Linked DNA regions of Homo sapiens. The protein of the gene in region 2 purifies or fractionates together with the protein of the main gene of each other region. This does not show direct contact. Each region holds a gene or a part of one and is shown on either strand. Other genes may lie near its edges.

Region 1 (3,500 bases), on a different chromosome or scaffold from region 2:
TCTATAGTGCCTTTAACTATTCAGTCACATTTTAAACTCCAGTTATGACTTTTGCAGAATAATATTGTGTCAGAGAGCCCCAAAACATGTCGGGTGTTCCTAAAGCTTTGGAGACTATAAAATTGAAGTAGATACCATAAACTTCATCCAGGTTTTCAGGCTGTATATTAAAGAAGTTTCGGACTCCAAAAGATTACTCAATGGTCAGCCAAGTTGGTCCGCCGAGTGACTGAGGTCAGGGTCTGAGCACCTTGGACTCTTTAATTTCTCTTAGGTAGTTAAGATTGAGTCATTCCCAGAGGTGGAAGGTATGTGATGATGACTGTGGGTATATCCAGCCTATGAATCATCACTCTTAGCTCTTCTGGGAAGAGATGGATCTATATATGATCACAGGGAAGAACCTAGAAGAAGGAGATCTATAAGAGATAGTCTCATGAAGTCATTTTGGATTTCTGCCAACCCTCATTTTCTTCTTTATGGGGTCTCTCTCTCTGACCACCACTGTCTTCCAGAAATGCTCCAGGCCCGCGGTCTGTTCTGTTCTGACCCTTACTAGGTTTGTTCTTGACTTTTCTCAGACTTGTCATGTTCCATCTCTTAAAATCATATTTTCTGAACTAGAGATCATCTAGTCCAACTGCCTCTTTTTACAGATGAAGAAACTGAAGCTGAAAGTTCAGCTTGAGCAGAATCTTAACAGAATGTGGATTTGAATCTCTGACCCATGCTCATGCCATTTTTAAATGGAAAAGCCAGAAATGTTCTTCAGACCTAGAGAAATCGGCAAGCATCTGAATTTTGGAAGTGTACTATATTGTGTTGATTTATCAAACTGCTTCCCATATGCATAGGTCAGGGCTATCTATTTAAATATTGGTGCCTGGACTCTTACTATTGACTCTATTCCAGCTGGCCTTGGAACAAGTTCTGGGTCCGTCCTTCTTTGCCTGCCTCCACCCCATTCCCTTCTGAAAAAGCCCAGTGAAGTGTGGCTGTAGCTAGCCAAGAATCAGAGCTGTATTCAGGATGTGTACCTAAGCACTTGCTTCCTTGCATTTATTCACTCGGAGTGCCATGTGGCCCAGGGCCATCTTCCAGGGATTGCTGGGTCACCTTGAATGCTAAGAGTAGAGAAAAAGCCAAAACGGGCAGCGAGACTTACAGGAAGTCTTAGGACTCTGCAAGAAAGCAGAAATAGGCAAGTTTAATTTTAACACAGGCTGGTGTGAGACCAAGTAATGACAGGGTTGGGGAAAAAAAGGGTCAAAGTATTTATATGGTATAAATAATTTGTTGGGGAAGTCAGGATAAATGCTTATATAAAAGGATTCCTTTATTATAAAGAAGTGGTTATTCTGTGTTCTCAGTTATATAGACTCTCTTAGCATAACAATATATTGAGATTTAATTTAAGCTTTCATAACCAAATAGTACCAGAATTATGGCGCATGGTTTCCTGAAGACCTCGGCTCAACATATTACTGTGGACAGTGAGGCCAGTGAATTATTTGGTATTTTCAAGAGGGACAGTGAGACAAAACAGAAAATACTGTTGTAAGCTTAGATGACAGGGTCAATTGTGCCTGAAACACTGATTTAGTGCTGAATCAGCCCATTTTAAGAATATAATCATAGCTTAAGAACCAGTTTAAAATTTCCCCATCCTACACTAAAGCAATGTCTTTAACTCCTTTGGATGTCTGTAGCACATTGTGTCTGACAATTCTGATGTTTTGTGCTAAACTGTGATCCACTATCTTTAGGACATGATCTAATCTCTCCCAACTGGATTGTAGGTTATGTGAGGGCAGGGGTCTTACATTCATTTCTTTGCCTGCTAGCACCTAGCATATGCCTTGCAAATACAATAGAGACTGATATTATACACTCAGTTTAACCTGTGACATCAACTCTTCCTGCTGAGGGTGGAGAGAGGGAGAAATCCCTTTCTTTAACCCTTTGCCCTTCCTTGCTCAGGCCTTGGTGTCTTCTGCCTCTGAGGAAACGGAATCTGTAAGCTTAGCAAAGAAACGCACAAGACGTTAATTCTTGGTTTTTGATTTTTCAAAGGCGGGGGGTTCCAGCTAAGGGATTTTCATGAGTGTTTGTAAATTTCACCTGGCTTTTGCCCTAAAGGCAGACTTTAGAACCTAACCCCAGAAATACAGGCTGACCTACACTGCAGTGGGTACTCGGGACTTGCTGAGGTGGTTGGTTGTTATGAGGCTGGACAGAGAAGGATGACTGTGGAATAGAGATCTTTCTGAAAGCAACTTGACAGGGGTGTGGGGGTCAAATGGAAGTGTGCAGTACACGTGTGAAGTCACTTGTGAATTGATAGCGGCAGGTTTATTTCTTCAAGGATAGTAAGGGAATCTTGGATATATTTAACTCTTTCGGTAGGATGGTGGGAAGGCTGCTTACCTGCTCCGGGGGTGAGCCTAGGAGCCATAGCATGGGATCTGGGGATCTGTGTAGCACCCCCGCTGGCTCCTGGGAGGATGGTAAAGATTACGTACTGCAGCAGTGGGAAGTGGACGTAGTCTCAGCCCCCGGTGCCCATCTTCCCTTTCTGGGCTTGGGTACAACTCTGGAATCAAATAACTTTATATCTGGAAGGAAGCTTAGGGGTTCTGAAACCTGGCTGGTCTTCAGGGTAACTACTTGGGCAACCTTTTATAAAAGTGTGATTCTCAGCCCAGCCTAGATCTGTTACGTCAGTTTCCATAAGTGTGCTCCAAGAAGCTGTTCTTAAAGTCTTCTTCGTTTGAGTCAGACTAGCTTTTCTCCTTTACACAGAAGGCAGAGTGTAATGTAGTGACTAAGAGCAGAGCCTAGAGCCAGGTAGGATCAAACCCTTTTCTGCCATTGACTAGCTATGATTTTGTGCAGGATTCCTAACCTTCCTAGGCCTTCCTGCCTTCAGCTGTGAAGCTAGTATCCTCGCACATTAGAATAGTCCTGGTCCAGAGTGAGCATTTTGTGTTTGTTAAATAGATGAGGAAACCAAGGCTGTAAGAGGTGCAGTGGTGGCGGCATGTCTAGCAAACTTGGTCTTCAATCTGCATCTTCCCTGCTTCCCGGCCTGTGCTGTGTATGTGCTTTCTCCTTTTAGGTTTGGTTTTCATCACGTTTAAAGGTTTGGTTTTCATCACATTCTCCCTTTCTTCCATTCCACTCTCCAGTTGAAAAGTGCATCTCAGAAGAGCCATGCCTTCTACTTAGCAGCCCTTCGTAGCTACTAAGCCATAGATAAATCCCAGTGAGGTCTCAGTGTTCAGAGATGAGTGGACAGATGGGTGCATAGACATGACGGGGCAGTGACTGTGAGCTGGATACCCATGGAGGGTGGGTGGTGCAGTTATAGGTTGGGCTTACTGCTAAGGAATACCACCTGTCTGGTTTCCAGGCCTTCTTAGACCTCTATGACCTTGAAAGCACCCCCACACCTCCATCCCTAGGAGGCTGGATAACTTGCACAACACCCAGGGCAGGTT
Region 2 (3,500 bases):
CGCTTGTAATCCCAGCTACTTGGGAGGCAGCTATCCTGAGGCAGGATAGGCCTGCCTCAGCTATCCTGAGATAGGCGCTCGTAATCCCAGCTATCCTGAGGCAGGATAATTGCTTGCACCCAGGAGGCGGATACTGCAGTGAGCCAAGATCATGCCATTGCACTCCAGCCTGGGCGACAAGTGGAAAACTTTGTCTCAAACAAAACAAAACTATATTTAACTTATTAATATCCAAAATATTTTAACATGTAACCATTATAAAATATTTTAAATTCTTAAAGTCTCAAAATCTACTGTGCATTTTATATTTACAGCACATTTCAAATCATACTAGCCAGATTTTGAGTCCTTAACAGTTACATATGGCTGGCGGCTGCTATTGTCAACAACAAATCTACATACTATACATATTTAATGGTACAAAATAAAAGAAACTTAAACATGAAATGTTAAGGCTAACATTGTGTTTGTTTTTTGAAATGCCCTACCCCACCAGTAGAGTGGCACTTTTCTTCCAGTGAAGTTCATTTGGATCTCCTGCCATGTCCACATTTATTTGTAGTGATTTTTTTTCTCATTTGTCCTAATGGCTGATTACTACTTCTAAAAATATTTACTAAAGTTCTCTCACTAAACAGAACTTCAAATGCTTTGAAAGTGTATAAAAAAGTCATTTATTGAATTTACTTTTTGCTACAGCTATGATCCATGGCAAACATTGGATATATGAAGAAATAGTTAACTCCTCCATGTACTTCTCACATGAATATCACTAATACGAGCCGTCATTGAATGAGTTTTAAATGGTAAGTCTCATCTTTGATTATGCATTGTAGGTTCTTTCTCTGGCAAGTGTGTCAACCTTGTGACCTTGTTTTCATTAGTTTACACTCTTGTGACAAGTAAAATATAAGCCCCCATATGGACATTGACAACAACTGCTTTTCCATTTCCTTAATAATTAAAGAAAAATGCATTGAAAAGCTTTTAAGATCATTATCTAAAATATCATTGAAGATTATGTCCTAATTATACCCAGCAACTACCATGGACAATGACTGCAACATAGTTGATATTTGCAGAGCTTTTTTTCTGTCCTCCCAAAAGAAACATTCTAAATGTATACCAATACTTTCATTTTAAGTCTTTTCAAACTTACTGAAGAAGGTAAAGAGGATGCACTTCTAAATTACGATGAAAACACATTAGAACCTTACTGTTTTATTACTTTCTTTTCGCTAGTGCCATAAGCAAGAATCTCTCTCACAGGGATCATCCCCTGCTCTGTCCAAATTCCCTCTTTTCCTAGTTTGTATCAGCCCTATTTTCCCCATAGATATTTTTAACATCATGCCTGATGCTCATGCATTTCTATTATTGTCAATGAATCTTCTTTTTAAAGATTTTTCTCCTTAAAGAATCCTTTACTAGGATTAACACAGTATATTTATCTCTGCATCTAAGGACTAAGTATTCCGCTTATACAACTACTAGCATTGGTAGTATTGAGGACTTGAAAATTTATTTCCAGAAATGCTTTACTTAGAAAATAGCTTATTTGCCCACTCCTATGGCTCAAAACCCTGCAAAGCCTTGGCCAGGTGTGGTGGCTCAAGCCTGTAATCCCAGCACTTTGGGAGGCCGAGGGGGGCGGATCACAAGGTCAAGAGATCAAGACCATCCTGGCCAACATGGTGAAACCGTCTCTACTAAAAATACAAAAATTAGCTGGGTGTGGTGGCACATGCCTGTAGTCCCAACTACTCATGAGATTGAGGTAGGAGAATCACTTGAACCCCAGGAGGCAGAGGTTGCAGTGAGCCGAGATCGCACCACTGCACTCCAGCCTGGCAACAGAGCCAGACTATGTCTCAAAAAAAAAAAAAAAAAAAAACAAAAGAAAACCCCTGCAAATCCAACAGTGTTTTTGCTGTTTTTTTTGTTTGCTTTTTTTGTTTATCATTTCCTACAAGGCAATGATAGAATCAAGTACGCATACGAAGTCAATAATCATACCTTTGGCAAAGTAAACATTCTCTGTACTTCATTTTTACTTAAGTGTCTTTATCTTTGTTATATCATTTTCCTATGGGATATTCCCTAATTTTCTAAACTTCATGCTTTTGTTTCCTAGTAGTTGAAAGCTTGCCTCTGGATATTAATTACTTCATGGTATTCGATTCCCACCACTTTTTTTTTTTTTTTTTTTTTTGAGACAGGGTCTCACACTATTGCCCAGGCTAGAGTGCAGAGGCACAATTATAGCTCACTGCAGCCTCCACCTCCTGGAATCAAGTGATCCTCCTGCCTCAGCCTCCCAAGTAGCCGGAACTAAAAGCGTGTGCCAGCACACCCAGCTAATATTTGTATTTTTTTTGTAGAGATGGGATTTTGCTATGTTGCCCAGGCTGGTCTCAACCTCCGGGGCACAAGTAGTCTACCTGCCTTGGTCTCCCAAAGTGCTGGGATTATAGACATGAGCCACTGTGACCAGCCTCCCATTGCTTTTTAAAAATCTTAATTCTTAAACTAATAGGCATATCTGTACTTTGCTTTTCCTGAAGGAGAATAAGCCTGATCTAACCATACCTTAAATCTAAGTTTATGAATGCTCATTTTTTACATATATTTTTCACAGTTAAGAAGACATCTGACTTTGTTATTGTTTTCTCTCTCATTCTGACCACCTTATCCAAAAATGGATGGTTCTGTCTTGCAACTTTATTCTATCTCAGCTATAAGCCTTGCTTAGATATGTTTTCTATTTTGTAATTAGCTTTTTTTAATTCTTTCAATTCTAACTTATCTGTATACTATTTATAAAATATTTGAAATGTAACTAAAGTGTTTTGTGTTGTTGTTTGTTTTTTACCATTTACTTCTGTTGCCAGGATGGCAGTAAAGTTTTTACAAAGCAAACATTTCTCTGAATCATGCAGTAAGGGCTAATTTTTTATGATTAATCTTTACAAATCCCATCACATTGAACAGACCTTTAGCCTATATACAAATAGTGACTCTGAATTTTGTTGTGGGGATATAAAGGCAAGTAAACACACACCCTCAACTTTCAGAACACTGTCAGTACAACGGTGGATTTGTGGGAAAGGGAGGTGGATTAACTGTGATGACCACAAAACAAATATTCTTACCTGTACCATTAATCATGTCGCAGTGACTTTCCCAATAGGACAGATTCCTAGGAATAGAAAAAGACAATGAATAAACATTCTTATTTAAAGAATACCTTTCTTACATTACTTTTTCTATTATAATTCAATACTTCTGTTAATATGATGCATTTAAATGTGACAAGTACTAAGTTTAAGAAATGTTCAATTCTGTTTATGTTTTGTTTGAACCTTTTATCTTATTGCAATGTACCTGATGCCATTAGGTAGCCAGATCATAAAATAAAAACTGCCAGGTGTTAATTAGAAACATCTTGGAATAAGAAAAAAATTAAAAACATTTATCAGAAACTTAGATCTCTACTTAGG

The links. Proteins that work in one complex are often made in the same cells at the same time.
Region 1: the proteins of CD36 (region 2) and ITGA6 purify together in Homo sapiens (affinity purification with western blotting, with the first as the bait; one study listed by BioGRID). This does not show direct contact.

The regions. Positions count from the first base shown.
Region 1 is NC_000002.12:172,430,586-172,434,085, forward strand, and holds part of ITGA6 (integrin alpha-6 isoform b preproprotein), read left to right. Parts: intron 1-3,500. UniProt on the Homo sapiens protein: Integrin alpha-6/beta-1 (ITGA6:ITGB1) is a receptor for laminin on platelets. Integrin alpha-6/beta-1 (ITGA6:ITGB1) is present in oocytes and is involved in sperm-egg fusion.
Region 2 is NC_000007.14:80,666,142-80,669,641, reverse strand, and holds part of CD36 (platelet glycoprotein 4), read right to left. Parts: intron 3,200-3,500; coding exon 3,153-3,199; intron 1-3,152.